Linked DNA regions of Homo sapiens. The protein of the gene in region 3 interacts with the protein of the main gene of each other region in a pairwise test. Each region holds a gene or a part of one and is shown on either strand. Other genes may lie near its edges. The genes, in order: LIAT1, SPIRE1, PLD1 and ASCL4.

Region 1 (7,755 bases), on a different chromosome or scaffold from region 3:
CTTCTCTGCCTCCGGGTCAGCAAGAATTCCATCCCAACGCAGACTTTCGTTGATCCGATTCGCAAGGTTCTCTATTTCGGCAAAGTCGGGGAGGCTGACGGTGGAGGAGTCAGAAGGGAGGTGCTTCTTTTCCACTTTGCTCTGTCTGTGCTCTGGTTTCGGGCCACGCTCTTTGCAAGGACTTAAGATGTCATGAAAGGAGGAAGAAAGCGGCTGGCTCTTCAGGCTCTGACTCTGATGTTTATCTGCTGAGTAGATGAGCAGGTTAGTGTTTGTGGCAATGTCTGACCTTGGCCTGCTGGGGATGGTGCCAAAATCACCCAAGATGGAAGAGGAGGATGGGGGCCCCTCCGTACCCAGGGCTCAGGCTGCCAAGCCCACCAGCCTCGTGCCCACCTGCCTGTGTGATTTTGCTGAAATCATTTCAGGGCAGGAGGAACCATTCATTGAGCACACAGTCTGAGCCAGGCCGTCTGGGTAAAGGCGATCGGCCCTATTCTTCGGGTGAGGAAACCGAAGCTCCAAAAGGTTCAGGAACTTGCCAATGTCATGAGCGAGTGGCAGAGCTGGGACCTGAGTGCAGGCTGGGCCCCCAATGCCCCATTCTTTCCACTGGGCCGTGCTGCCCTCATCCATCCTCGCCATGTGCTCACCACGGCCATTCCCAGTTCTGGGAGTCTGTGACTCTACCCTAGTCTAGACACTTTATGATGGAAGGAACGGAAAACAACAGAAAAGCTTCCTAAATTTGACTGAAAGCAGTATTATGCCAAGCCAGAAATACTTCTGCTGTATGGCTTGTACTGATTTTTTTTTTTAACATCAATAGCACTTCAGAATTATTTAACATGCACATAAAATGCTACAAATTGTGGTTCTTTCATCAGCTCGTCCTTTTATTTTAGGGGAGAGAGAAAGAAATCATCTTTTGACATTTCCCTCCCTTGCTACGCCCTGGAAACTATCTGGTGCCCCCTGCTGATGGTATGAGGCACATGTCACTGTAATTTCTACAGTGAAAAGCTACGCCAAAAGGACAATGAACTGCCAAATTTCTTTTTGCAGATACACACAGGGCTTTTTTTTTTTTTGAGACTGAGTCTCACTCTGCCACCCAGGCTGGAGCACAGTGGCACAATCTTGGCTCACTGCAACCTCCGCCTCTCAGGTTCAAGCAATTCTAGGTGCCTGCCACCATGCCCAGCTAATTTTTGTATTTTCAGTAGAGACGGGGTTTCACCATGTTGGCCAGGCTGGTCTTGAATTCCCAAAGTGCTGGGATTACAGGCGTGAGCCATGTGCCCAGCCACACAGGGCTTCTTGACCTGAACTGCAGAATTTTCTTGCCTTTGTATTACGCCTGAGAAGTACTTATCATCTTCCCATTGCTCCCTTCCCACACTGCACGGTCCATATGGGCGAGGCTGCCACTCTGCCTCCTGCTTGCCTTGGTGCCAGCTCTGCCACAGAGGGCCAGGCCCCAGAACTGGAGCTTAGAGCCCTCTCCCAGACAGCCAAAGCCACTGAGGTGGACCACACGGGCGACAGTGGCCTCACAGCACTCACGGGCACCTGCATTCTCTGTCACTGCTGTGCTCTCTCTCCTCAAAGTGGGTGCTCAGTCCCCTTGTCAAGAAATGTAGGGGTTCTACAAGAAGAGCTTGGTGAGATGTAGGGACTGGGGTTTATGGCAGGTAGGGTATGTGTGTTTGTGAAGGTGTCCCTGAGAGAGACTGCAATTCCTGCCTGCATATGACTACACACGCGAATGGATAACGTATTAACAGTCTGTGTGTGTAGACTAGGAATGTGTGTGCATGAGGGGGATCTGTGCTTTAGTTTTCTTGTTTGTTTTTTTGAGAGACAGGGTCTTGCTTGTTGCCCAGGCTGGAGTGCAATGGTGCGATCATAGCTCACTGCAGCCTGGAAGTCCTGGGTTCAAGTGATCCTCCCACCTCGGCCTCCCAAAGTGCTCGGATTACAGGTGTGAGCCACTGCGTCCCGCCCTTTAGTTTCACTGTTGGTGTTACATTGATAGAAGGTGGGGGGAGTGGTTGAGGGTGTCCCCCGCCCTTTAGTTTCACTGTGGGTGTTACACTGATATGAAGCGGGGAGTGGTTGAGGGTGTCAGGGATTATAGGAGGATGTCACAGTGACTGGTGTCATGGGGTTTGTGCAGTCCAAGGCTGCCCCTTGGTGGGTGCGAGGGGGAGCCCATGCAGCGAGGACCTTTAATACACACGTCTGTGGGTGTGGGTGTCTACCGCGCATCCACAGGCAGGCAGCCTTAACGCAAGAGGGTGGGAGGAGGGGAGGCAGGAGTCTGCCCTTCTCTGTGCATGAGAGTGAGGGCCTTTCATGTGGCATCAATGTGTTTGGGGTGGGGAAAGTGTCTTGTGAGGAGGGCCTCTGTGGGGAAGGCGCAGACGTTTAAGACTGCCAGTTTTGGCTGAGGGATTAGGAAGTTGAGAGGGTGTCTTTGTGTGGGGCTGGAAGGCTCTTAGGAATGGTGGATATCTGTAGGGGTCTCTGTGTGGGGCTAAGGGACCGCAGAGTTGGTGGATGGTCTCCACGGGTGGGGCTGGGGCATCAACGTGCTGCTGACGGGCATGTGTGGGGAGCAGGAGGACCTCGGTCCGGGACCACTGAGCTTCTGTTTCCGGTCTGAAGGGTAAATGGGGGGTGGGTCCCCAAAGAGTCTCCAGGGAACCGGAGCTGACGCAGCCGGGCTAGCTGCTCCTCTTACCGTCCCCCTTGCCAGACCCCTTGGTCTTCTTCTTCCTTTTTTTCTTCTTCACCTTCCGTTTGGCCAGCTCGGAGGCGCCGCCTGTGATGGGGGGCAGTCTAGACCCCCGCGGGCCCGCGGCGCCGCCCTCCCGCTCCTCCTCCTCGCCGTCGTTGTCCTTGTACCCCATTGTCCCCGCCCCACCGCGGCGGTCCAGCCGCCCGCTGGGCTGCAACCCAACCCGCCCCGGGGGCGCCCGAGGCCCGATGCCGACTAATCGGCGACTCTCAGCGCGGACCGCCAGGCCAGGGCCACGCGTCTCCATGGCGACCACCCCTGCTGCGCCTGCGCAGTCAGGACGCTTCCGCCCGGTGCCCCACGGACCGCGGTGTGCGCATGCGTGCTTCCGTCTTTTGGCGACCTTGGCACACAGCGGTGTGCGCATGTGTGCTTCTGTCGGGGATCTCGAGAACAGAGCGTTGTGCGCATGCGTACATCTGTCGGAGTGCTAGGTACGCAGCGGTGCGCGCATGCGTGCTTCCATCTGTTGGCGATACCGGCACAGCGATGTGCGCATGCGTGCTTCTGTCTGCGGAGACCTCCGCGCATAGAAGTGTGCGCATGCGTGCGTCTGTCGGAAACCTCCGCACACAGAGGTGTGCGCATGCGTGCTTCTGTCGGGGACCGCGGCGCACGGTGGTTCGCCCATGCTTGCTTTTGTCTGTTGGAATCTGGACAGTTGACCGCAGGAAGGGGAGGGTGGGCAGAGAGATTTTAAATCCCTGGGCTGACACTCATCTCGTCCAGTCCCGTGCCTCGATCCTCCTGCCTTGGCCTCCCATCCCCACGCCTGGCTAAGAGTTTTGATTTTTGGTTTCAGGCTGGTCTCGAACTCCTGGGCTCCATCGATCTTCCCGCCTCGGCCTCCTAGATCGCTGGGATCACAGGCATGAGCCTCCGTGCTCGGCCTCCTGTACCTTTTTAAATGCTGTGTATTCTCCCCTCAATTTTTATTGCCTGAGTTTCAGCCTCGTACATCTACCCTGGACTCTCAAAGCCAATGTGTCCAAAACAAACTTACTTCTTCATGGTTTTCCACTTTAGTGAACAAAACCGCTGGACTGGCTGGAAACCTGGTGGGCTTCCGTGTCCCCTACCCTCTCCCTTGTCCCTTACCCAGGCTGGGGCCGACTGCCGTGTCTGGCACTGGGACTTCTGGGTCCTCTCCTGAATGGTCTCTGCTTTCAAACCTTCCCCACGAACTCTTTTTCCGCACAGCTGCTAGAACAAACTTTTAAAAACAACCAAACCGTTCACTCTCTTGCTAAAAGTCTCCAGTGATGAAAAACAAAACATAAAAAGCCAAAAAGTCCTCCATTGCTTCCTCATCACAATTTACATCAAGATCTAAACTCTTGTGGGGCTCTGTGCAGGGCTGACACCCGTAGTCCCAACACTTTGGGAGGTCAAGGTGGGTGGATCGCTTGAGCCCATTCTGGGCAACGTAGTGAGACCCCATCTCTACAAAAAATTAACCAGCTGCGCTGAGGGGCACTTGTGGAGGAACTTGAGCCTGCAGTGAGCCGAGATCGCACCACTGCTGTCCAGCCTGGGTAACAAAGCAAGACTTTCTCTCTCTTTTTTTTTTTTTGGGAGACAGAGCCTTCCTCTGTTGCCCAGGCTGGAATGCAGTGGCGTGAACGTGACTCACTGCAACCTCTGCCTCTCAGGTTCAAGTGATTCTTCTGCCTCAGCCTCCCTAGTAGCTAGGACTACAGGTGCGTGCCACCACGCCTGGCTGATTTTTTATTTTTTATTTTTTGTATTTTTAGTAGAGACGGGGTGTCACCATATTGGCCAGGCTGGTCTCGAACACCTGACCTTGTGATCCGCCTACCTCGGCCTCCCAAAGTGCTGGGACTACAGGCTTGAGCCACCACGCCCGGCCTCTGTGTCTTAAAAAAAAAAATAACAAAGTGTGGCTTACAAGGCCTGGTATGATGCATCACCTGCTTTTCTTTCTAGGTTTACCCTCCACAGATTGTATTATCTGAAAATGGCTGCAGAGGCTGGGCATGGTGGCTCACGCCTGTAATCCCAGCACTTTGGGAGGCCGAGGTGGGTGGATCACTTGAGGTCAGGAGTTTGAGACCAGCCTGGCCAACATGGAGAAACCCCGTCTCTACTAAAAATACAAAAATTAGCTGGGCATGGTGGTGGGTGCATGTAATCCCAGCTATTTGAGAGGCTGAGGCAGGAGAATCACTTGAACCCAGGAGGTAGAGGTTGCAGTGAGCTGAAATTGCATCACTGCACTCCAGCCTGGGTGACAGGGCAAGGCTCCATCTCAAAATAAAATAAAATGATAAAATAAAATAAAACTGCTGTGCTCCAGCCTGGGTGACAGAGCAAGACTCCATCTCAAAATAAAATAAAATGATAAAATAAAACTGGCTGCAGTAATATCTCTTGTCCCACATACTCTTCAAGAATCTTGCCATTCCCATGGCAAGACGCAGAGTCTCATTCCGCTCTCCTTCAATTTAAGGGGTTTGTTGACTCGCTTGTAACCAATAGTATGTGGCAGAAGTGCCTCTGTGTGACTTCTCAGGCTAGGTCCTAAAGGGAATGCAGCATCCATCCATCTTCTTAGCCCATGACGTGCTTGCTGTAGAGTCCTGAGCCTCCCATTGAGAAGTCTGAGGACCCCAAGGCTGTCACACCTTGATAAATCCCCACCTAGTCCACGTGGAGAGCCTCTAAGATGTATGGAGAGAAAGATGCCTCAGCTCCTCCAGCCCCCACTTTTCCCATCCAGCTATCGTCCTGCAGCAGCAGCAGGAGAGACCCCAGGCCAGCCCCAAGCAGACAAGCCTTTCCTGAATTCCTGACCCAAAGAAGCTGTGAGAGAAAATACAATGGTTGTAGTTATTTAAGTTACGAAGGTTTGGAGTGATGTGTTATGCAACAGTAGATAACCAAATGTGTCTTTTTAAAAAGATATGGAATGGTATTTTATCTTTTATTTAATTTCAACTTTTATTTTAGATTCGGGGGGTACATGTGCAAGTTTGTTACATGAGTACACTGAGTGATGGTACATGACTCATGAGTACAATGTACATGAGTACATTGAGGTTTGGGGTATGGGTGATCCCGTCACCCAGGTGGTGAGTACAACACCCAACAGTAGTTTCTCAGTCCACATCTTCCAGCCCCTCCTCCCTCTAGTAGTCCCCATTACCCATTGAAAAATCAGCCTTTGATTTTAGCCACTCTAGTGGGTAAGAAGTTGTATTTCTCTGTGGTTTTGAATTGAATTCCCTTGGTGATTAACGAAGTCAAGAACTCTTGAAAGTGCTTTCTGGTCATTTGTGTATATATATATATATATGTATATATATATATATATTTTTTTTTTTTGAGATGGAGTCTTGCTGTGTGGTCTGGGCTTCCATGCAGTGGCACAATCTCCACTCGATGCAGCCTCTGCCTTCTGGGTTCAAGCAATTCTCCTCCCTCAGCCTCCTGAGTAGTTGGGATTACAGGCATGCACCACCACACCTGGCTAATTTTTGTATTTTTAGTAGAGACGGGGTTTCACCATATTGGCCAGGCTGCTCTCAAATTCCTGACCTCAGGTGATCCACCCGCCTCGGCCTCCCAAAGTGCTGAGTTTACAGGTGTGAGCCACTGCGCCCGGCCTGTCATTTGTATATCTTTAAGTGTCTTTTGAAGTCTTTTGGCCATTCTGTAATGTGGTTGTTTATTGTTGATTTGTTGTTTGTTGTTGATGTCTTTGCACAACTTGAATATAAGTGTTTTGTCAGCTTTATGACTGCAAAGATTTTTTTTCCAGGTCTGTAACTTATCCATTTTCTGAATGTGGTGTCTTTGGATAAGCAGAAATTTGAAATTCTGATAAATAATTTTTTTCAATTTTCAATTCATTTGATCAGTTTTTTCTTTTTGTATTGTGTCCAAGGATGCTTTGCCTGCCCCATATTGCAAAGACAGTGTGCTATGCTATCTTCTAGAAGCTTTATAGTTCTGGTTTTAGGTTAGGTTCATGATCTACTTCAAATTTATTATTATTTTTTGAGATGGAGTTTCGCTCTTGTCGCCCAGGCTGGAGTGCAGTGGCGTGATCTCAGCTCACTGCAACCTCTGCCTCCCGGATTTAAGCAATTCTCCTGCCTCAGCCCCCAAGTAGCTGGGATTACAGGCATGCACAAACATGCCAGGCTAATTTTGTATTTTTAGTAGAGGCAGGGTTTTACCACGTTGGCCAGGCTGGGCTTGAACTCCTGACCTCAAGTGATCCGCCCGCCTCGGCCTCCCAGAGTGCTGGGATTATAGGTGTGAGCCACCGCACCTGGCCTACCTCAAATTGATTTTGTGAATAAAGTCACATATAGGAGTCACATTTATTTTTTCCCAAATCGATTTCCAGTTTTTCCAGGAACTTCCATTGAAAAGACATTCCTTTTCCCATTGACTTGACTTGGTACTTTTCATTACGATTTTTAAAAATTTTTTTGGGATGGAGTTTCACTCTGTGGCCCAGGCTGGAGTGCAGTGGTACGATCTCGGCTCACTGCAACCTCCACTTCCCAGGTTCAAGTGGTTCTTCTGCCTCAGCCTCCTGAGTAGCTGGCACTACAGGTGCGTGCCACCATACCTGGCTAATTTTTTTTTTTTTTGTATTTTTAGTAGAGATGGGGCTTCACCATTTTGGCCAGGCTGGTCTCAAACTCCTGACCTCAAGTGATCCACCTGCCTCAGCCTCCCAAAGTGCTGGGATTACAGGCGTGAGTCACCACAGCTGGTCATTTCTGATTTTCTTTTCTTTTCTTTTCTTTTTTTGAGACAGGGTCTCACTGTTTTGCCCAAGCGGGTCTCAAATCTCTGGGCTCAAGTGATCCTCCTACCTTGGCCTCCCAAAGCATTGGGATTACAGGCATGAGCCACCATACCCAGCCTGACTTGGTATTTTTGTAGAAAATGAGTTAACTATGTGTTTGTCAATC
Region 2 (7,276 bases), on a different chromosome or scaffold from region 3:
GACAAGGTTAGTAAATCCAAGGCTTTAGAGAGCCAGGCCCTGCCTACTGTAGCACAAAGGCTGCTCTGAGCACCTGCTACGTGGTGGCAGAAGAGGCTTCAATATGGTCGTAGAGCTTTTTATTTCACGTAGAATTGTGAAGGTTCAAATAATGATATATTATTCTGTGTAAAAAAACCTCAAAAAACAGTAATATAATGCAGAATTATTTAAAATAGCCACATCATTAAAAAGGAAACTTGAAATTTCTCTTTGCAGAGAAGTGACGTACACACCCTGGTTGTCATAACACAGCTTCATGACAGGTGATGGGAGCACACAGGTTTCCTGAGCCCATGCCCTGGTTGTGCAGGTGTCTGTGGGTGGGCGGAGTCCACCATGGCTACCTGGCCTGGCAGGAGGATGCTCTGCTCACGGAATGAGTGAGCAAATACTCTTCTGATGGTGGGGGGAGGCCCTAGGAGGAATGCACCCCACGGGCTCAGAGTGCCTGCTGCACATGGAGAAAGGTGGCAGCACTGACTCTGCTATACAATTAGGTCACCCGAGGAGACAAACACCCACAGGTCCCCTTCATCAGATGCTGCATTTTGAGTTTGTTGTCCTTTCCCAGTTATTTCCCTCAACTGAGACCACGGCATGATCGGTGCATCCTGCACAAGGGTGGAATCAATGATTGGAAGCAAAGTGCTATCTAAGCGGTTAATTCTCAGAGAACGCAACAGTTGAGGTGTCACCGTCAGAGATACAGAGAATGAAATAATCCCAGACCCAGCAGAAAGAGGCCAACCTTTGAGGATTTCCACCTGCTGGTAAAAGCTCTCTCACACAGATAATACATAGCCCCTGCTACCCCAAACATGGCTGCTTCAAAAGGATGAGAGCTGAGCAGAGAAGCTGTTTGTATGGTAGAAAAAAGTGGTCGAAAAGGCGTCCTTGGCCATACACTGGTTATCCTAGGAACCTGAACAACAGATAAGGGAAAAAGAAAATGGCAGGGGGAAAAGAAAAGGAGAAAATAATGCTGAACACAAGTGACCTACACATAGTGATTACAGATCACAAAAGGAAAACAAAACAAAAAACACCATGAGGCTGGTACAGTCCGTGCGAACATCTGCATCCACACGTATAAATCAGTGATGAAACCACGAAGTCCTTCCTGGAGAATCTCAGCGTTCACACAGCAAGGATTTTTCTAATTTAGGGTCCTGCAAACACTCTGAGTTTCCTCAGTGGGGCTTGTTGTGATGAAGGATAGAGGCAACTCGTTACTGTGCCTGAGAAAGCATGGGGACATGTGCCAGGCAGCCACTTGCACCTGCCCCAGGAAGGTACTGCCAACACGAGGTGCCTTTAGACTGGATGGGCATTTGCCCTCGGTTATTTGACCAAATGATGAAAAAAAATGACATTTTAAACATCACAAGAAAAGGGAGGGAGATACAACAAAAATAAAAATTATCAGCCGGGCACAGTGGCTCACGCCTGTAATCTCAGCACTTTGGGAGGCCGAGGCGGGCAGATCACCTGAGGTCAGGAGTTCGAGACCAGCCTGACCAACATGGAGAAACCCCGTCTCTCCTAAGTATACAAAATTAGCCGGGTGTGGTGGCACATGCCTATAATCCCAACTACTTGGGAGGCTGAGGCAGGAGAATCGCTTCAATCCGGGAGGCGGAGGTTGTGGTGAATCGAGATTGAGCCATTGCACTCCAGCCTGCGCAACAAGAGCGGAACTCCATCTCAAAAAAAAAAAAAATTATCAACAATAAAAACATTCCTGCCATTTTCAGTTGAGGAGTTACAAATACAAAATGATTCTTTGTTTTCTAAAATGCAGCTACATTTAAAAATTAATTACACTTATAAAAACAATACTTACCAAGCTATAGGGCATTACTACAAGGTATGATTTTATGGATTTCCCAAGATAAGCTATTAGCAAGGAAGATCATTTCGTCTCTGCTGGTGCTTGGAGGCCTGCGTGGACTCTGCTCCCTGCCCTCAATCTGACCACTGTTCAGTGCTGAGCAGAGCGGCTCTCCCACTGCCTGCTCACTGAGACCTTCCTCAGTGATTGCAAGTTAGTTTATCTTGCTCTCCTTCCTGCTCCACAAAAAAACAGTGCACGGCCTGACCTCGCAACACTAAGAGCTCTGCTTTAACAGGAAACAGACACAGTCATGGGCCCTTGGGGTCAGCTGAAGGTCTCAGCATAACTTCTATTATAAGCTGAAACTACCTTGTAGCTAAGCTGATAGTTCCTTTACATTGCTAATTTTAAACTTTAAGTCTAACCTCAATAATGACATTGTATGATCACATAAAGGCCAGTTACAAGCTGAATGATAGACTGGCTTCTAGGAAAAGCTGAGTGAAGAAGAGAATACCCTAATGATTAGACTTATGAAAAAAACCACAAGTTCCCTCTTACCTATACACATGTATGTGTGTGTGTGTGTATGTATGTATATACATACATGTGTGTATGTATGTACATATGTACGTACATACATATGTGTGTATGCACGTACATATGTACGTACATACATATGTGTGGTATGTACGTACATATGTATATACATACATGCGTGTATATGTATGTACATACATATGTATATACATACATACACACACATATACACACACATACACATATGTGTGTATATATATTTTTAGAGACAGGGTCTTGCTGTGTCATCTACGCTGGGGTGGAGTGGCACATTCTTAGTTCACTGTGGCATCAAACTCCTAGGCTCAAGGGATCTTCCCTCTGCAGCATCCTGAGTAGCTGGGATTACGGGCATGCGCCACCACATCTAACTAAGTTTTTAATTAAAAATTTTGTACAGACAGGGGTTTCTTAAGTTGCCCAGGCTGGTCTCAAACTTCTGGCCTCAGGCGATTCTCCTCCTTTGGCCTCCCAAAGTGCTGGGATTACAGGTGTGAGCCACTGTGCCTGGACCCTCTTACATATTTTAAAGTTGTGATAATAGCTGTATATTTTGGTAAAAGCAATAACTTATTCACATGAAAACAAATTTTTAGATTTTTACGTTTGAATCTGTCTGGTCAGAGTTCTGTTTTCTTGTTGGTAAGTCACTGACAAGGCTATATTTAATCGAATAGCTGTGTTTTGGTGATTATTCTGGAGCTAGAAGAATCCTATCAGGAATCGCCATAAAATCATTAGTTCTTTAATTGCACTGTTTTGGCATAGAGATGAATGACCAAATATTAACATTCTAAGCTCTGTTCAAAATCCCTGTCTTCACAATAATCGCATTATCTCCCATCTGTTATTACTTTAATTGAAACTCTAATAATTCATCACAGCCTTAAAAAATGGACTTAGTATTCAATATATTCTATTATTTTTTATTCATGAATATTTGAAAACACATTAGATATTTGACTGTGGGTAGAATATTAATTACAGCTGTGCATCTTGCCTACAAATATTTCAGAAGCCAAGTGGCGCTACAAAAGAGTCTTTGGAGACCTCTGTTGGCTGGGAGATCTACTAATTCCTCCTGGCAAACCCTTGTGTGCTGCCCACTGTCCTGAGAAATGAGCACCCACTATAAGAACCTGCAAGTCTCTGGAAAACAGCAAAAACTATAAACCAGTTCAACCAAAATAACACCACTGGCCCCAAATATCACAAAACATACTAGAAAACAATGTACAGTAGTTATTAATGGATCAAAATTCTCCCTCGCTTGTACTTCTGCCTCAATAAGATCACCTACTGTAGTCATTTTGCTAAGAGTTTTTTTGGTCAATTTTTAACAATTTTTAAATGGATTAATAGCCTTTGAAAGAAAGAAAGCATTTCTTTAATAATAATCCATACTTTCAACCACTGATAAATTTTCTTGAAAAAAAAAAAGAGCTCAAAATGAACAAACACTGGTCAAGTTTCGTTTAGGTTATGGATAGAGTTTGGAGAAGGTGTCACTCTGCTGCCCAGGCTAGAGTGCAATGGTGTAGTCATAGCTCACTGCAGCCTTAACCTCCTGGGCACAAATGATCCTCTCACACCTCATCCTCTTAAGCAGCTGGGGCCACAGGTGTGCACTACCACACCTGGCTAATTATTATTATTTTTTTTTGCAGAGACGGGATCTCACAATGTTGCTCAGGCTGGTCTTGAACTCCTGGAGTCAAGTAATCCTCCCACCTTGGCCTCCCAAAGTGTTAGGATTATAGGCACGAGCCACCACGCCTGGCTGTTTGTTTTCTTTAGCTATTAAGTAAGTTATTCAAAATTCATTCTAACTTTTGCAAGTTTTTTTCTCCTTATCATCTTCATAAGAAAGCTAATGATTCTATGTCTTCTAGCTGGTCCCTAAGTTACTACAAAGTCTTTCCTGTACTTACAAGAGAGCGGGAACTCTGCCTGGAAGGCGGCAGGAACTGCCTCACGTTAGTAGGCGTTTCCTTTTCAATGGAATGTCGTCTCTGGGGTGGCTGCCGTCTCTCTGGCTGGGGTGTTGATGATATGGGCAGGAATTTTGGAGGCTCTAAAGATTGAACCAAATGAAATAAAACTTACTGTGAATTTTCTAACACAAAACCTTTTGACATTTGTGACAAACACTGTAATTCAAAGATGAATTATTTATTTCATTGGAGAGATATTTTAAGATGGTAATGGTAATCCTTAGGAGTAGACTCTGAGGGCTGTTACAGAAGAATCTTTGCAAAGTAAACTTGCTACAGAAATAGCAAGAAAAAAGGAAAAATGTTAGGTGTAGCCAGAAAGATTCCCAAATCATACCAAAATTCTCAATGTACCCTCTTTTTACATTCTCCTTTTTAAAGATAAAATAAGGAAAATCCTTCTTTCTACATGTTTACCAAGACATTTTGTCCTTAGGTTTAAATTAAACTGTATTTAAACTGCAAAAAGTAAGCTTCAGCTTTGATGTTAATATTGTACCATTGTCCTTCTCTGCCTAGTAATATTTTAAGACTGTTTAAAAGGAGACTGCTTTAGTGTCTGAACGGTTCTGGATTCCCATTTTGAAAACAAAAGGAGAACATTAGAAATAAATTATGGTGCCAGAGTTTTATTTAGTGCTTCCTCCTACTCTATCTACAGAGTAGAGCTGCTTCAATGTAGTGGGTGTGGAAAGTGAGAGTCAACACAAAGTTACATATGATCCATCTATTTAGACTGTCCCACCATGAGAAACCACTAAAGGAAAACACAGATATAATTTCCACAGTCAAGAAAAGATACAGAAATCCATTATGTGATTCAATTGGGTCCCTATAATATCCAATTGTGGATAGTCAGTACCTACTGTTTTTGATATAATCTGTGTAAATAATAAAACTACTTAAAGAATTTTTGTGTATGAGAAATCAAGCCAATATATAATTTTTAATACTTCATAATGTTCTTATAAATGAAAAGGATTATTAAAAGCCTTTAGAAATCCCTTAACTTTAGATATCTGTGTTCAGAATCTATCTCCTAAAGAGTTATAAAGGTGTTTTCACTATCTACACAGGTTTTTGGAGATGGGTGTGTGTGGGTGGTAGGTGGAATGATAATAAATATGGTTGTGTTGGGCTTCTGGTTTAAATTTAGCCAAGGAGGTAATCTATCTAAAACAAAACAAAACAGAACGCTACACACACAACTGATTTATAATATTTCCCATGACTATTGTTCGTAAACACACATGTGCCTGCTCTGTCATAAGACCCCGAGGCCTGGTATGATGCCACTCTTGGAAAATAAGTATTTCATCTCCCGATCAGTGAAATGCCTGAGTTAGTTCTTTCTACCCTAGATGATCACAGGGCGCTCTGGGATCTCTGCTCTAGGTCAAGTGTGTTTTGTAGTAAGACATCCGACTACAGCTCTTAGCACCACAACTACTCACTCTTCCTTGTGGACACGGCCTCCAGGACTGGCTCTTCAGGGAAAGAGGGAGACACGCTGCTGCTGCTGGTCGACTTGTGCAGCGTTTCTTCCTGAGCAAAGTACAGGTGGAGAAATCGACTTCTTAGACATTTGTGCTCTAGTGCTACGTAATAACATTTTATTATTAAACAGTTATTTTAACATGAGGCACCAAAGTATGTCAAAGGTTCAAGGCAAGCAAAAGACAAACTAGAAGGGGTTTCAAACAAGACAGGTCTGGGTTTGTGCCTTGGCTCTGCCCTGATGAGAGTGATGTGAAACTGAGCATGCTTCTTTCTGTTTTTTGGAGACAGGGTCTCACTCTGTTGCTCTGGTAGCAGTGCAGTGGTGTGATCTGGGCCCACTGCAGCGTCTACCTTCTGGGCCCAAGTGATCCTCCCACCTCAGACTCCAGTAGCCAGGATCACAGGTGTGCACTTCCACACCCAGCTAATTTTTAAATTTTTTGTAGAGACAGGGTCTTCCTATGTTGCCTAGCTGGCCTTGAGCTCAAGCGATCCTCCCAAAGTGCTGGGGTAACAGGTGTGAGCCGCTGCACCTGGCCTGAGCATGTTTCTTATCTTAGTTTCATCATTGTGAAAGAGGGTATTTAATATCACTTTTTCCATAGGGTTATTGGAAAGATGAAATGAGGTAATGCATTCAAAATGCTTAACACATTACCTGGCACACAATAAAACAGTGGTTAATATTATTAGGGAAATATTTAATACATTTATACAAGTAATACATTGTCAGCCTCATGGGAGCAGATGCTGGGTCTGTCTTGCTCACTGATGTATGTCCAGTACCAAACCCATCACTTAGTAAGTAATGAGTGTTTGTTGAATGAATGGATGAAAAAATAAACATTTCATGAAATGTCATATGAGTCTAGAAAAATGTCTACATTGTGGGCCAGGTACGGTGGCTCGCACCTATAATCCCAGCACTTTGGGAGGCCAAGACGGGCAGATCACGAGGTCAGGAGTTTGAGATCAGCCTGGCCAGCATGGTGAAACCTCACCTCTACTAAAAATATAAAAATGAGCCAGGCGTGGTGGCACGCGCCTGTAGTCCCAGCTACTTGGGAGGCAGAGGCAGGAGAATTGCTTGACCCGGGGAGGCAGCGGTTGTAGTGAGCTGAGATCGCATCACTGCACTCCAGCCTGGGTGACAGAGTGATACTCCGTCTCAGAAAAAAAAAAGAAAAAGAAAAAGAAAAATGTCTACATCGTGCCAAATAAAATTAAAATTCTTATTACCAGTGAGAAGAGATCCTAACTTGTTTTAGACTAAACAAAAATAAAGTATAATATTTATTCCTGAAATATTTACTAAATACTATGCGAG
Region 3 (7,927 bases):
ATGTTATTAAAACCCTGTAAGAAAGATGAAGAGTCTTGTGGATGGATGGTGGTGACGGTAGCACAACGATGTGAATGTATTTAATGCCACTACATGTACACTTAAAAATGGCTACAATGGTAAATTTTATGTTGTACATATTTTACCACAACAAAAGTGAAATTATAAGAGAAAAAAAATTTTTTAAAAAAACATCCTGTAAGAGAACATTTATACACTGTCGGTTGGAACGTAAATTAGTTCAGTCACTGTGGAAAGCAGTTGCAGATTTCTCAAAGAACTCAAAACGGAACTACCATTCAACCCAGCAGCCCCATTACTGGGTATATATCCAAAAGAAAATAAGTTGTTCTACCAAAAACACACACAAATTCATATGTTCACCACAGCACTAGTCACAATAGCAAAGACATGGAGTCAGCCTAGATGCCCATCAACTATGGACCGGATAAGAGAAAATGTGGTCCATATGCATCATAGAATACCATGCAGCCATAAAAAGTAACACAATCGTGTCCTTTGTAGAAACATGGATGCGGATGGAGGTCATTATCCTAAGCAAATTAATGCAGGAACAGAAAATCAAACATTGCATGTTTTCACTAATAAGTGGAAGGTAAACATTGGGTACTTATGGATATAGAGACGGCAACAATAGACACTGGGAACTACTAGACGTGGGAGGGAGGAAGGAGAGCAAAAGTTAAAAAATTATCAGGTACTATGCTCACCACCTGGGTGACGGGACCAGTTGTACCCCCAACCTCAGCTGCATGCTGTATGTCCATGTAACAAACCTGCACATGTACCCCCTGTATCTAAAATAAAATTTCAAATTATTAAAAAAAAAAAATAGGGTCGGGTGCAGTGGCTCACGCCTGTAATCCCAGCACTTTGGGAGGCCGAGGCGGGCGGATCACGAGGTCAGGAAATCGAGACCATCCTGGCTAACACGGTGAAACCCCGTCTCTACTAAAAATACAAAAAATCAACCGGGCGTGGCAGCAGGCGCCTGTTTTCCCAGCTACTCAGGAGGCTGAGGCAGGAGAATGGCGTGAACCCGGGAGGTGGAGCTTGCAGTGAGCCGAGATCGCGCCACTGCACTCCAGCCTGGGCGACAGAGCGAGACTCCGTCTCAAAAAATAATAATAATAATAATAATGACAGTCCTACTTTTCCTTTGTAACAAAAATAAAAGTTACCTATAAGAGTTAAAGGTAAATAAAATTTGTAATTTTAATTAAGAAACACTAAGTAAACATACAACTTCCAAGAAGCCGGGTTCCCCACTACCTGGTTATAAGTAAGTCTACAAACCTAAATGAGCATTGTACAGCGCTTACTATAGTTCATAATTATTCTGTCATCAGGGACAAACATTGTAAAGACACTTTTTCCTCAAAGCCTTAGCATTCAATTTTTTTTTTTTTTTTTTTTTTTTTTTGAGACAGATTCTTGCCCTGTCGCCCAGGCTGGCGTGCAATGGCTCCATCTCGGCTCACTGCAACCTCCGCCTCCCGGGTTCAAGCGATTCTCCTGCCTCAGCCTCCCGAGTGGCTGGGATTACAGGCGTGTGCCACCACGCCTGGCTAATTTTTGTATTTTTAGTAGAGGCGGGGTTTCACCATGTTGGCCAGGCTGGTCTCAAACTCCTGACCTCAGGTGATCTGCCCGCCTCAGCCTCCCAAAGTGCTGGGATTACAGGCGTGAGTCACCGCGCCCAGGCAGCACTCCAACTTTTTATATGGATTGTTAACTGTACTGGTTCTTGAGAAGCCAGACTGAGCGCTTATACAATTAGTCCAAAGATCCCCAAACAACATTTAAAGGCTGTCTACAAATTCAAGCTAAAAGACTGTGTACAAATTCATTTGTGTGTCACAAAACATTTAATACTGAAAGAGATTCTTATTCAAATAGGCAGTGTGTAAATGTGGGGTCTGTTAACAGTTCAAATTGCAGATTCCTTTCCTTCTTTAAGTTTTCATTGCACCACCACGAACTAAACCATTTAACATACCTCAGAGGTCTCTGGGTACCTAGTCTCTCAGAGGCCTTTGGAGGCCCACGAAGGCTTATCTTAACTAAAATTGGCAGGGCTGGCTGATAAAGTTAACGGAACTCCCCATTTTGGAGGCAGACTTAGTAATGGTCAAACGAAGAAACTGTTGTGGTCTGTTCTTAAAAAGCTACTAGTATTTAGTGCTTCACAGAGGAAGTAAAGAAAGCAATAATCCGAGATGAGGAGGAGCAAATACAGGCGTGGCGGTAGTTCAGGACTGAGTCTACAAGGGCGGTTCTCAAGGGCGTCACAAAATCCTATGGAAGGCTTGGAGGACGGCACTCCTGGATCTGAGCCCTACGTCCCAAACACCTTCAATCGTATTGTGAGGAAGAAGACCTTTTACACACTCCCTGCTGCTGGCCCCCGGCCCCCTCGCCCCACCTCCGAGTGGTCACATCACACGGCGGGAGCCGCGGTCAGCAGCTGTGATCACACCCCCAGGACCGTGCTCTGCGGGCTGGGCTCGAAGCCTTGGGACGCGGCACTTCCTGGTTGGTACGGGATGCCGGTCCCATCGCCCCCACCAGCCCAGTCATGCCACCGCGCACCCGAACCAAGGGCGCCCGGATGACCTGGGGACACCACACACACTGCACCCGAAGCCCTGTGGCGGCGAGGCGGTGCATCCTGCAGAGGACGCCTGGGCTTCAGCCTGAGCCTGCGCGGCTCTGCGCTCCAGGCAGCCGCCCGCGCGGCAAAAGTGCGTGCCAGAGTTGTCAGCTTTCACCCTGCAGGAATTCCACCCGAAGGCGTGCGAGGGAGGCCCTTGGGGATCGCTAGGGAGTCCGCCGCCGACTCACTCGCTGAAATCCCGTCCAAGTTGGGCGGGGAGCGGCCAGCTGCCCAGGTTGGGCGGAGGAGGGACGGAGGGCGAGGGCAGTGGAAACCCGGCTCCCACGGGCGCCCGGTGATCCGGGTCTCGGCGCGGCTCCTACCTGCAGGGCGAAGGGGCCGCTAGCACCTGCGCGTTGGCGGCGGACTCTCAGGGCTCGGGTGCCTCTGGCACAGCTGGAGCTCAGCGGGAGGGAGGGAGAGAGGGCGGGCCGGAGGGGGCTCTGCGCTGCGCGGCCGGCAGGAACTCTCCGCCCGGATTCGCCCCGGATTCGCAGGGGTGGAGCGAGGCGGTGCCAGGTCCCGGGGCGTCGCGGTGCCGGCTGGAGGCCCCAGCGGGGCAGGTCTCGCGACTGGGCCTCTGATCGCCCGCGTTCCTTGTTCTCTTTTCCCAAAGTTTCATAACTCGACCGCATCACCCTAGGGAATGCTCGCTATTAGGACCATTATCAGGTCCTCTCGAGCCGCCAAGGACCAGCCACCTTTCCCGGAGCTTTGCCTATGATATCTATTCTTCGACTACTGCGGATAGTAGCCACAACTGGTCCAACTTATAAGTAAGGAATCAGCAAATCAAACGGCTAAATAACTTGCCTGAGGTGACATAATTAAGAGACTGGAGCTTTGCTGGAGTCTTTATAAGCCTTCTTGCACCTCCTTAGGGAAGTGTTATCGCCAATTTACAGGTAAGGAAATGAAGGCTCAGAACCAGCCCGAGGTCACACAGCTTAGATGGAGGGGGACGGGAATTTGTGTCCCGATGTCTCTAAAACTGGTTATAATTCAGAAATCTTAGCATAAAATAATAAATTGGGAGCAAAACAGGGAAAAGACCCATTCCACCTATGGAACCGTTCAAACACGGCAATTTTGCTGTTTTCAGTCCACTTAGAATAAAGTCTTAAGAAAAAGAGAACCAGTTGTCATGTGGCTTGAATAGCAGCCCTTTGGGAATGTAATTTTGAATATAGGCCAGTTCCAACCTCATTACACGATATTGCATCCCGCCAAAGCCAGGGGAAGCAATGGCCTCCCCATGCACCAAACTGCTAATAACGTCAGCCACTTTAAAGCATTTAGTGGATATTACACAACTGCGACTGACCAAGTTACATAATGTCTTACTGCACACATGGCATTGCATGAAATGAAAAATATAATATACCAGTCCAAATTAGGGGAGGGGGGCCAAATTATAGTCTGGAACTCAGTTTTCCTGTAACCTACAGTTGCTCAGCCCTCCTTAGACCACATTTTTGTCTCTTGAGCACATCTTTTCCTAATGATAGAAGAGTCACACAGCCCTCACTCTTTCCTTGTTGACATAAATGATTGATGTCTTTTGAATCCTATGATACTGACAGATTTTTACAATTAAACACATGACTCTCTGAGCAGAGTATTGCCTAAGAGGAGTTTAGTAAGTTTCAGACAAGCATGTTACTGGAAGGCAGAATACCCTCTCTCCTCCCCTCTTTCTCAAGCTTTATTAGTCACAGATGGTCTGATAAGTCTTGTGCACACACGTAACTGCATTCTTACAAGCTTGTCTTTAGAAATTATAATGCTTTTGGTTGAGAAGCAGCAGTCTATAAAATTGCATCCCAAATTCTTAAGTGTCACTATGAAAACATTTGGCACTTGCCTCCAACAATAGGTCTTTCTACTAAATCTAATTAGAAATAAAATTATCAAGGCCAAGCGCAGTGGCTCACACCTGTAATCCCAACACTTTGGGAGGCCGAAGCGCGTTGATTACCTGAGGTCAGGAGCTCAAGACCAGTCTGGGCCACATGGCGAAACCCCGGCTCTACTAAAAATACAAAAATTAGCCGGAGGTGGAGGCAGGTTCCTGTAATCGAAGCTATTCGGGAGGCTGAGGCAGGAGGATTATTTGAACCTGGGAGGAGGAGGTTGCTGTGAGTTGAGATTGCACCACTGCATTCCAGCCTGGTGACACAGCAAGACTCTGTCTCAAAAAAAAAAAAGAAAGAAAGAAAGAAAGAAAATTATCTAAGTGCCCTTACAATAACTGAATTTCTGCCTCCCTGGGATAGAGGAATAAAATAGGAAATGCCATATGTTGTTTAGAGATGAACTGAAGCTTATGGACTCCCAAACATGAATTTTAGAAGTAGTATGATTTTGTATGTAATTATTTTATTTTCCTGAGAGATTTTGTGATTTTTCTTTCCAACTCTTTCATATCTTCAAAGATGTCAAGAAACAGTGACTAAGTAATCATGCTATACATTCATCTCAATATGCACTTGACATTTTTGTCAAAGTGGTATTTGAAATCCTTTTAATTGTTCTATTTTCTTCTGAGAATAAAAACATATATGTTCATTTTTATAATTTTAACATCTATATTTTAGAAAAAAAATTTTACATCTATGTTTTAGAGACCACAGAAAAACATTTTTAATTAAAATCACCTATAACTCCCACACACACACTCTCTATTAGCATTTAGTATATTTCCTTATTTTTTCTATGCCCAGAGGTTTGTTATAAAATTAACACCATGCTTTACAGAGTTTAGAATCTTCCTTATCTCACTAAGTATTTATAAATTGACTATTTTTTACTGTTATTAAACTTTCTTTAAGATATCATTTCTGTGGTTGAAGAATATTACAATCATTTATCAAATGTTTTAGGATATTTTCAGACTTTATTGCAGTTTACAAATCATGCTAGAATGAACACTACGTTGCATCATCTTTGTCAAGATCTCTACATCCTTAGGATAGATTCCTAAAAGTAGAAATACTGGATCAGCATTTAGAAACATTTTTAAGGTGCTGTGTGATGCTGCAAAAATACCCTCCAGTATTAAATATTGCCTTGCTTATAACCTGAAAATGTCACGAATCAAAATCATATCTTGTTTTAATCAACTTTTTTATAATCAGTAATGCTGAACACGATTTTTTCATGTTATTATTTGTACCATTTACTGAAAATGATCTATTCATGTCCATTACCTGTTCTTTTTCTATGGTAAATTAGTTTCTTGTTAATTTGCAATAATGCTTTCAACAGAAACAGAACTATTTTATCAAAGTGACATACAAATGGTGCTCCCCCAGATTTTCCCTTGTGGTACATTTGATACAAGCACTGCCATCCAGATCATCTAGTCATTTTGGGATACCAACATCTATCATCTTTTCTGACAGTTCCATTTTCTTATAGAAAATTACCTCTCCCCAAATAGGCATAGGCCTGGCAAGACAGCAATTTCAAGCAGTAACCTCAAAAGTGAAGGTCAGATCCTTCTTCCATATTCCCACCACCATTCCATTTACCCTATAGGCCAGGTGGACTGAATCTCAGGGGATGAGGGAGCCGGTGATCTTTGAGGTTGAGCTTATTGAACAGAGACAGAAGCGGCCCATCAGCAGCTTTACCCTGACCAGTAAAACCTAGGAAACTTTTACTTCCTAGGTTTTGTGGGTCTTTTTTTTAAATCTTTTTGTTGCTTCCTTAGTTCCTGCTGTTCTTCCACTTTGTCTTGATTCTGTGAGGCCCCGGTGCCCTTTTCCTTCAGAGAGCAAGTCTGCATTCATTATTTGTCCCCAATAATCCTCACTGACATAATCTGTATGACTTCTGTGCCCTTCAGTCCACCTGACAGTCTGTGGATTAGCAACTACTCATTTCATTCATTCATTCGCAAACATCTAATTGCTAATGTTAATTAACCAATGCACATGTTTCTCTAGAGACATGGAGTATAGAGCAAGATGTTGTATCCCCAGTTACCTGATGACATAAATCACTTCAACCACCATAACAGTGACTCACTGAAAGATCAGAACAGTGTCATTAGTGAGGCTCAAATTTTTTGTAAAAAAATGACAGTGGTTAACACCAAAAATCTCAAGAGAGAATGAGGAACACAGCAACACAGCAGATATTGCCAAGATGTGCAGAGCATTGTGTTTCTGTATCCTCATTTCAGCTTCCTGTGGCCCATTTGTATGTTTCATCATTTTTTCCAGCAACGGTCGACTTGTGAGCTGCCTAGCATGTGACTATAAAGGTCCCACACTGACGCCTACAGCTCCCCCTGCAATACCAAAGATAAGTCTTCTCAGTCACCCATAGCCAGTCCCTGTGAAGCTTTTTCATGTCCAACAAGCCCAAATGGATCCCACTCCCCCTATCTAATGACTTTTTTGAAATATTTCTGTATTTTCAATGTTTACATAACCTTTTTTTTTATACTTTAAGTTCTAGGGTACATGTGCACAACATGCAGTTTTGTTACATATGCATACATGTGCCGTGTTGGTGTGCTGCACCCATTAACTCATCATTTACATAAGGTATTTCTCCTAATGCTATCCCTCCCCCAGCCCCCCACCCCACGACAAGCTTCGGTGTGTGATATTCCCTGCCCTGGGTCCAAGTGTTCTCATTGTTCAGTTCCCACCTATGAGTGAGAACATGCGGTGTTTGGTTTTCTATCCTTGCGATAGTTTGCTCAGAATGATGGTTTCCAGCTTCATCCATGTCACTACAAAGGACATGAACTCATCCTTTTTTATGGCTGCATAGTATTCCATGATGTATATGTGCCACATTTTCTTAATCCAGTTTACCATTGATGGACATTTGGGTTGGTTCCAAGTCTTTGCTATTGTGAATAGTGCCGCAATAAACATACGTGTGCTTGTGTCTTTATAGTAGCATGATTTATAATCCTTTGGGTATATATCCAGTAATGGGATAATGTTTACATAACTTTTATAATTTTATTTGTTTTCATGGATTTGCACATTTATGCAAACTAGCATGATTAGTAAATAAGCAAACATGCAAAAAGCCATTTAAAAATGAATATTTGTTTGGAATAACACAATTACATGCCAATTGGTTGCTGCAATTATATTAAAGAACTATAAGCGCAATTGAATTCAGTTTCCAAAAAAAAAAAAAAAAATCCATAAACTCCACAAGAAATCTTTGCTCACTCCAATGTCCTGGAGAGTTTCCTCAGTGTTTTCTTTTAGTGGTTTT
Region 4 (7,004 bases), on a different chromosome or scaffold from region 3:
ACCCCACAAATTTATGACAATTAAATAGGACAAAATGTAAAAAGCCACAACAAAATTCCTAGCACATAAAAGATGTCCACTGAAGATATAGCCTGCCTTAGTTGCTACAACTGTAAAAGGGGGTAATAAAATCTAAGTGAAATCTACCTGGAGGATGCACTTCCACTGTTAGTTCTCTTTGTCCATTTCCATTTCCCCTCCTTCTTCCCCCACAAACCAAAGCTGCCTCCATGGAAAGGATAATTCGGCATATTAGAAAACAATCTTAGGGAAGTTGATCTTCATACATCAGCAGGCATTTAACTTATCTACTGAACTCAAAATTGTTTCTTAGAAAAAAAATGACCCAAATTCAATATTTTAAAAAGGCTTTTAACATGGCCAAAGTCACTACATCATTTCCATATACTGTACCTGGAAGCCCTAATGGTGATAAAAATATTTGAGAATGTACCAACTTCAATCCATCCGTCTTGTCCCATATCTTTCCCCCATCTGGCTCAACCCGCAAAAAGGACTTCCAAGTAGATTTCTTTTTTATTTTTAAAGTCACAGTGCCACTTCAGTTTATCCAAAACTTAGATGGAGAGCTACACGTTGGGGGGCGGGGGGTATGCAGAGAAAAGGAAAATGAAGAAAACAGTGGACAAAACAATTGAGAGGAAAAACAAGTTTTCATACAAATCTGGGCTCTCTTCCAAAGAGATCATTAATTCTAAGATATTTTACTATCTGCTCAATGCTACAAAGCTTCCACGTGGCCACTGGATGAAACAGTGTGTACCAAGCCACGGATTCCCTGGCACCATCATTCACACAGTCAACAACAGCACATGCTGGCAAATTCGTTCTCAAGTACCAGCTTACAGTCTCCTTCACCCAAAGCAGGAGGTCAACAATTACTTTCCATTACATTTTGAATACAATTCCCGAAGGAAGGAATGCAAGAAAATGTTCCTCTCATTTTTAAGGACTGTTTTTGGCTGTTTGGGGTTGTTTCTGTTTTGGTGGCGGTAAAGTTCTTCTTTGGTTAAGGTTTAATGTTTATGTATACCATTTACCCACACCACGGAAGGTGGGAAATTCCAGTTGTTCTCGCCCTTTGAGTTTTTAGAATAATCGTATTTACAATGAGGTGCTCAGAATCTGAAACAGTTTGCATTTTAGAAGTATAGGAAAAGAGTCTCCTTAATAAGCACCTATAAGTTGCAGGCACGTAACCAATAAGGGCAGGGGAGAAATTCCCAAATGTCAAAACAACTCCCCCATCCCCCAAACCCCAGCACCCATTTCTTTTTCTTAAGATTTAGGCCTGGAGAAGATGCCAGATTAAGAATGCAAACCACCTTCGAAGAGGACCTTAGGTTGAGCGCCCGGCTGCGCGCTGTGCGGCGGGCGCGGGGGTCCTGGCCAGTTCGGGCGCTCGCTAGCTGCCCCCCTCCTCGGGCTCGCTGCTGGGCGAAGGCGCCGAAGAGGCCTTGGACTCCCCGTCGCTGTTGCATTCCGCCCTGCGCTGGGGGACGGCGCCGGCCGCGCCCTCGAGCCCCCAGGCCTGGCGCTCCAGCAGCTCCTGCAGGTGCTTGATGTAGTCGATGGCAGCGCGGAGCGTCTCCACTTTGCTGAGGCGCTTGTCTGCCAGCTCCCGGGGCAGGTGGTCTCGGAGGCGCGCATAGCCCTCGTTCACGCAGCGCACCCGCTGCCGCTCGCGCTCGTTGCGCTTGCGGAGGAAGGCGGGCTCGAAGGCGCTGTCCAGCGGCACGGGCAAGTACTGCCATCCCCGTGCGCAGCCGCTGCGCGCCCACTCCCAGCACGCGGCGTCCAGACGCAGGGCGACCCTGAGGGGGTCCCTCCGCGGGAGTCCGGGCAGGGTCCCCGGAACGCCCAGGGGCGCGGTGCGCAGCGAGTATGGCAAGGCCAGCCGTTCCGCCGGTTTACGCGTCTCCATCATTTGCCGGAAAGCACACAAATCACTCAAGAGGTCAATCTCTCAATAGAAGAAGACGAAACAGAATCTTAGAAGCAGAGGTGCTGGTGCAGACTGCCTGGCTCAGTGGGTCTGTCTTTGCAGAAGTTTCTGGGTCCAGAAGTTAGGTTCCTGGACAGGCTTCAGGGAAACGGTGCATGATTCCTGAAGTTCATTGCACTCCTCGATCTTTTTATGATTTAGGCAGAGGTGGTAGGCAAAGACGTAGGATCTCCTAATCCACACTTCAAACCCCGTCTTCCCCACTGATCTTCTTTCAGAAGATAACAAAGGGGGTTCCTCTGCCTGGTCCCCCAGCCTGGAAAGGTGAGCTCACACCAGAGTCATCTTCCAAAGCCACCAAAAGCTTTTCAATGCCTGTAATCCACCACTCTAGGTCTTCAAGAGATGAGTCGTTCGCCAAGAGCCTAGCAATCTTCAGGATTTGAGAAGAGCTCCTCCCAGGAACCTGCAGATCTGGCGGCGGAGGGAAAGTGGACCAGAGGCTTTCTCCTTGAAAATCACTTGACTGTCCTTTGTGGTTTCCCGCGACCAGGTCTAATGGAAGGAGCTTTTAGAGTGTTTGCAAACTTAAACTTGCTCTTTCATTTCTGGGGTCTTAGCCTCATCAAAGGAAAAACTGCTCTCTTGCGGTTATAAAATGTGTCAAGTCAAGGAAGACCCGGGGCGAGGCTTGAGGTTTTTCTTCTTCCAAACCGAATCTTTTAAAAACTCAATGAGGCATGTTTGAAGGGTATAGGAAAAATACAGACTGTAGCAAAGAATATAAGGGTCTGCATATTATGTTCCAACATATGTTGTTTTATGGTTGTTGAGGGTGTTTTATGGAGATGCGACTTTTTAAAAGCACATCAAAAGACTGAACAATAACAAACGCGCTTAGCCGGTTATTTCTCACAGTGCTTACTGTAAACACAGCTTAAATACTGCTTCCCAGCCTCCTCTTCTAATCTCACCCAGGATATAAGGACATCATCTTTCCATAGCGCAAAGAGTGTTTTTCCATTGGATTCTTCTTCTTTAAAAAATGTCATTTATTTTCTCTCTTGGGGGCAGGAAAGCAACATTTGAAAGGTGGAGACTCCAAGTTCCAAGGAGAAAGGATGATGTCTTTGAAGACTTGTCTTTTTAAGACACAACCCCTCCAAAATGAATAATTAATCCATCCGTGTTGGTAAACCTTTGAAGATTAAAGTGTCATTAAAAATCCAACTGTACTGGTTAACGTCAAAGAATATGTTATCACACTGAAAATCAGATTTCCTCTTCTGCAAACCAGTACATTAAAGGTGTCTTCTACTTTAAAAGTCCTACTTAAAAACAAGAGAAGCAAAAACCCCCTACATTTATGATGAGAGCTTTTGCCTATTCCTCAGCAGACAAGGTGCTGCCCTAACATGTTTTTCTTTTTAGTTTGGCAAGTCCTGTTCTTCCCTGTTTGTTCTAAATGATCCGCCTGAAGCAACTCAAAAAACAAGGCAAATAAAATAGAAATAATTATTCCTTTCGGGTATAAGTTAGTCACATTTTTAAAGGTGTAGCTTGGCTGGGTGCAGTGGCTCAAGGTTGTATTCCCAGCACTTTGGGAGGCCAAGGCGGGTGGATTGCTTGAGGCCAAGAGTTCAAGACCAACCTGGCCAACATAGCAAGACCCCCATCTTTTAAAAAGAAGAAAGAAAAATTAAAAGTTGTAGCTCCTGATGAGGTTTGTACTGGCAAATAGCCTAATATATCATCACAATTTCTCAGTAGAATTGAGAAAGCCCTTTCTATTAGGAGAAAAGTCCACCACTCAGGCAGGTAGGCTGTTATACCACAAGGTGCTTTTTGGCCATGTCAAAGATTTTAACTTTTAAGAGTGACAGGAAGATAATGAAATATTTTAAGCAGGGAGGTGACATTTGAAGATTTGTGTTTCAAAAAAGATAACTGTGTCTGCAGATTGAGGACTAGATTGGAAGAGAGCAAAAGGAAGAACAGTTGAGATGCCATTTCTCCTTCTCAGATTGGCAAAAGTTTAAAAGATTGCTAAGATTCAGGGGAGGCAAGGATTTGAGGAAAGGGTGGGAGCATAAATTGCTTCAAGAAACTATTAAAATTATTATTATTATTATTATTATTATTATTATTATTATTTTGAGACAGGTCTCACTGTCACCCAGGCTGGGGTGCAGTGATGCGATCTCGGCTCACTGCAACCTCCGCCTCCCAGGCTCAAGGGATCCTCCTATCTCAGCCTCCTGAGTAGCTAGGACTACAGGCTTGTGCCTCCACATCCCAGCTAAACAAACTGTTAAAATTAATAGTGCACATCACATCCTTTGATTCAGATATCTGTGCCGTTTTGTCCTACCAAAATAAATGTAGCAATACCTATTTATGTGTACAATAATCTTTATTGCAACATTTGTAGCAATTTAAAAAAACGAAGACTCCAGGCAAGGTGGCTTATGCCTGTAATCCCAGCACTTTGGGAGGCCAAAGTGGGTGGATCACTTGAGGTCAGGAGTTCGAGACCAGCCTAGCCAACGTGGCGAAACCCTGTCTCTACTAAAAATACAAAAAATTAGTCAGGCGTTGTAGCAGGTGCCTGTAATCCCAGCTACTTGGGAGGCTGAGACAGGAGAATCACTTGAATCCTGGAGGCGGAGGTTGTACTGAGCCAAGATCACGCCACTGCACTCCAGCCTGGGTGACAGAGCAAGACCCAGTCTCAAAAAAAAAAAAAAAAAGGCGAGGCTGGGCACAGTAGCTCACGCCTGTAATCTCAGCACTTTGGGAAGCCGAGGTGGGAGGATCATGAGGCCAGGAGTTCAAGACCTGCCTGACCAGCATGATGAAACCCCATCTCTACTAAAAATCAAAAAAATTAGCTGGGCATGGTGGCACATGCCTGTAGTCCCAGCTACTTGGGAGGCTGAGGCAGGAGAATTGCTTCAACCTGGCAGGCAGAGGTTGAAGTGAGCTGAGATAGCCTGGGCGACAGAGCGAGACTCTGTCTCAAAAAATAAATAAATAGATAAAGAAGAAGAAGAAAAAGGGAACAGCCTGAACAGCCTGAATGTCCATCAATAGGAAAAGAGTTAAAAATCTTAGAATATTATGCTATTATTAAAAATAATGAGTAAAATCTGTACGTAAGAACTTGCAGACATATCCACAATGTCTTAAGTGAAAAAAGCAAATTGCAGAGTAACATATGCAGCAGGAACATAAAAACAATTCTACATGATGTGTATGTCCTTTATATGTGTTTCTGTGAGCATGGAGAATGAAATAGAAAGACACATACTAAATGGTTTTTTGCATTGGTTGCCTAAAAAGAAAGGGTGGCATTGGGGAGGAAGGGGGGATGTTCATTTTTCTTTATAAATCTTTCTACTGTTTAACTTGTTAATACCAACACTATTACTTTCTTATTTTTATAACCCAGTGAAACTTAATAAGATAAAATGTGTAGAAAGTTCAAATGACACCCCCTGATCTGGCCCAAACCAACAGATTTACCATTAGAAATTAGAACTCTTAGACCAGGTTTTCTGGCTCCTTGTAAATTCTGTCTCTGAGGACGAAGTATCTACAAGACTTTCTCTCTCTCTCTCTCTCTCTCACTGCTAATACCACAATCAAAATTGGTCAAGGCCGGGCGCGGTGGCTCATGCCTGTAATCCTAGTACTTTGGGAGGCCAAGGCAGGAGGATCACCTGAGGTCAGGAGTTCAAGACCAGCCTGACCAACATGGAGAAACCCCGTTTCTACTAAAAATACAAAATTAGCTGGGCGTGGTGGTACATGCCTGTAATCCCAGCTACTTGGGAGGCTGAGGCAGGAGGAGAATCACTTGAACCCAGGAGGCGGAGGTTGTGGTGAGCTGAGATCATGCCATTGCACTCCAGCCTGGGCGACAAGAGCAAAACTCCGTCAAAAAAAAAAAAAAAAAAAAACTGGTCAAATCCTGATCCTACAGTGGTCTTTTTATAGGATCCAAGTAATATAATGACCTAACTGCATGGTCACAAAGAATGCTGACAGAGCCTTTCCTAAAGAACAAAAGCATTGAAAATAAGTGGCTTTTCCAGTAGGAATAGGACTGTTTTACTCACATGATGTGCAGGGTATGGGGTGGGGGTTACCTTCTTTACATAAGAGATCAAAAGAAGAAGTTTTGACTCCTGATTACTCTCCAGTCAGTTTTGACCCAGATAAACATTCTCTCCAACCTAAAGCTGTCCTAAGGCTGGCTAGATCACGTAACACATATGCTAACCTGCCAAGAGTAACTGGGCTGGGTTTGTGTAGTCCTATTTGGGTCTGCTCATGAAAGGGGGCAGATGGGCAGGTATATTTTAATCCTTTCCTTCTAGCTTTTGTCTTTTCTCCCCTGTTTAAGGCTACCTTCTCCTACCGCAAGTTTTACAAGGCCTCCTCTTGTCTATATAACACCTTGGTGTGAATTATGAAGAGGCACCAAACTCAAGGCTTGGAGAATGAATGGCTGACTCTAAAATTCATCTGGAAGAACTTTTGGGCAAGGATTTCCCAAATTTGGAAAAGAAGACAAAAGAACACAACGTGCACTTTTAATATCCATGAGGAAGAAATTACCACTTGAGATTCTAACTGAGGCTGTGTTAAATAGAAAGAAATTGGGCCAGGTGCAGTGGCTCATACCTGTAATTCCAACACTTTGGGAAGCTTATACAGGCAGATCACTTGAGCCCAGGAGTTTAAGACCAGCCTGAGCAACATGGGGAGACCCCATCAATACAAAAAAATACAAAAAATAGTCAGGCATGATGGCATGCATCTGAGGTCGCAACAACTCAGGAGGCTAAGGGGGGTGGATTGATTGAGCCCTGGAGATCGAGGCTGCAGTGAGCTGTGATCATGCCACAGCACTCCAGCCTGGGCAACAGAGCAACACCCTGTCTCCATTTAAAAGATTAATTTGGTGAGAATTACCTTTTTTTAAAAAAAAAACATTGCATAGCTCCATATATGCACATAATAGAACTCACTT

Evidence for each region.
Region 1: the proteins of PLD1 (region 3) and LIAT1 interact in binary tests that used the Homo sapiens proteins (3 or more experiments, as listed by UniProt).
Region 2: the proteins of PLD1 (region 3) and SPIRE1 interact in binary tests that used the Homo sapiens proteins (3 or more experiments, as listed by UniProt).
Region 4: the proteins of PLD1 (region 3) and ASCL4 interact in binary tests that used the Homo sapiens proteins (3 or more experiments, as listed by UniProt).

The regions. Positions count from the first base shown.
Region 1 is NC_000017.11:405,638-413,392, reverse strand, and holds the start of LIAT1 (protein LIAT1), read right to left. Parts: upstream 3,069-7,755; 5' UTR 3,051-3,068; coding exon 2,747-3,050; intron 265-2,746; exon of another isoform or gene 246-264; coding exon 1-245. UniProt on the Homo sapiens protein: Participates in nucleolar liquid-liquid phase separation (LLPS) through its N-terminal intrinsically disordered region (IDR). May be involved in ATE1-mediated N-terminal arginylation.
Region 2 is NC_000018.10:12,458,965-12,466,240, forward strand, and holds part of SPIRE1 (protein spire homolog 1), read right to left. Parts: intron 5,995-7,276; coding exon 5,904-5,994; intron 4,530-5,903; coding exon 4,387-4,529; intron 965-4,386; coding exon of another isoform or gene 791-964; intron 1-790.
Region 3 is NC_000003.12:171,807,399-171,815,325, forward strand, and holds the start of PLD1 (phospholipase D1), read right to left. Parts: upstream 3,086-7,927; 5' UTR 3,001-3,085; intron 1-3,000. UniProt on the Homo sapiens protein: Function as phospholipase selective for phosphatidylcholine. Implicated as a critical step in numerous cellular pathways, including signal transduction, membrane trafficking, and the regulation of mitosis.
Region 4 is NC_000012.12:107,770,160-107,777,163, reverse strand, and holds ASCL4 (achaete-scute homolog 4), read right to left. Parts: upstream 2,461-7,004; 5' UTR 1,946-2,460; coding exon 1,427-1,945; 3' UTR 520-1,426; downstream 1-519. UniProt on the Homo sapiens protein: Could be a transcriptional regulator involved in skin development.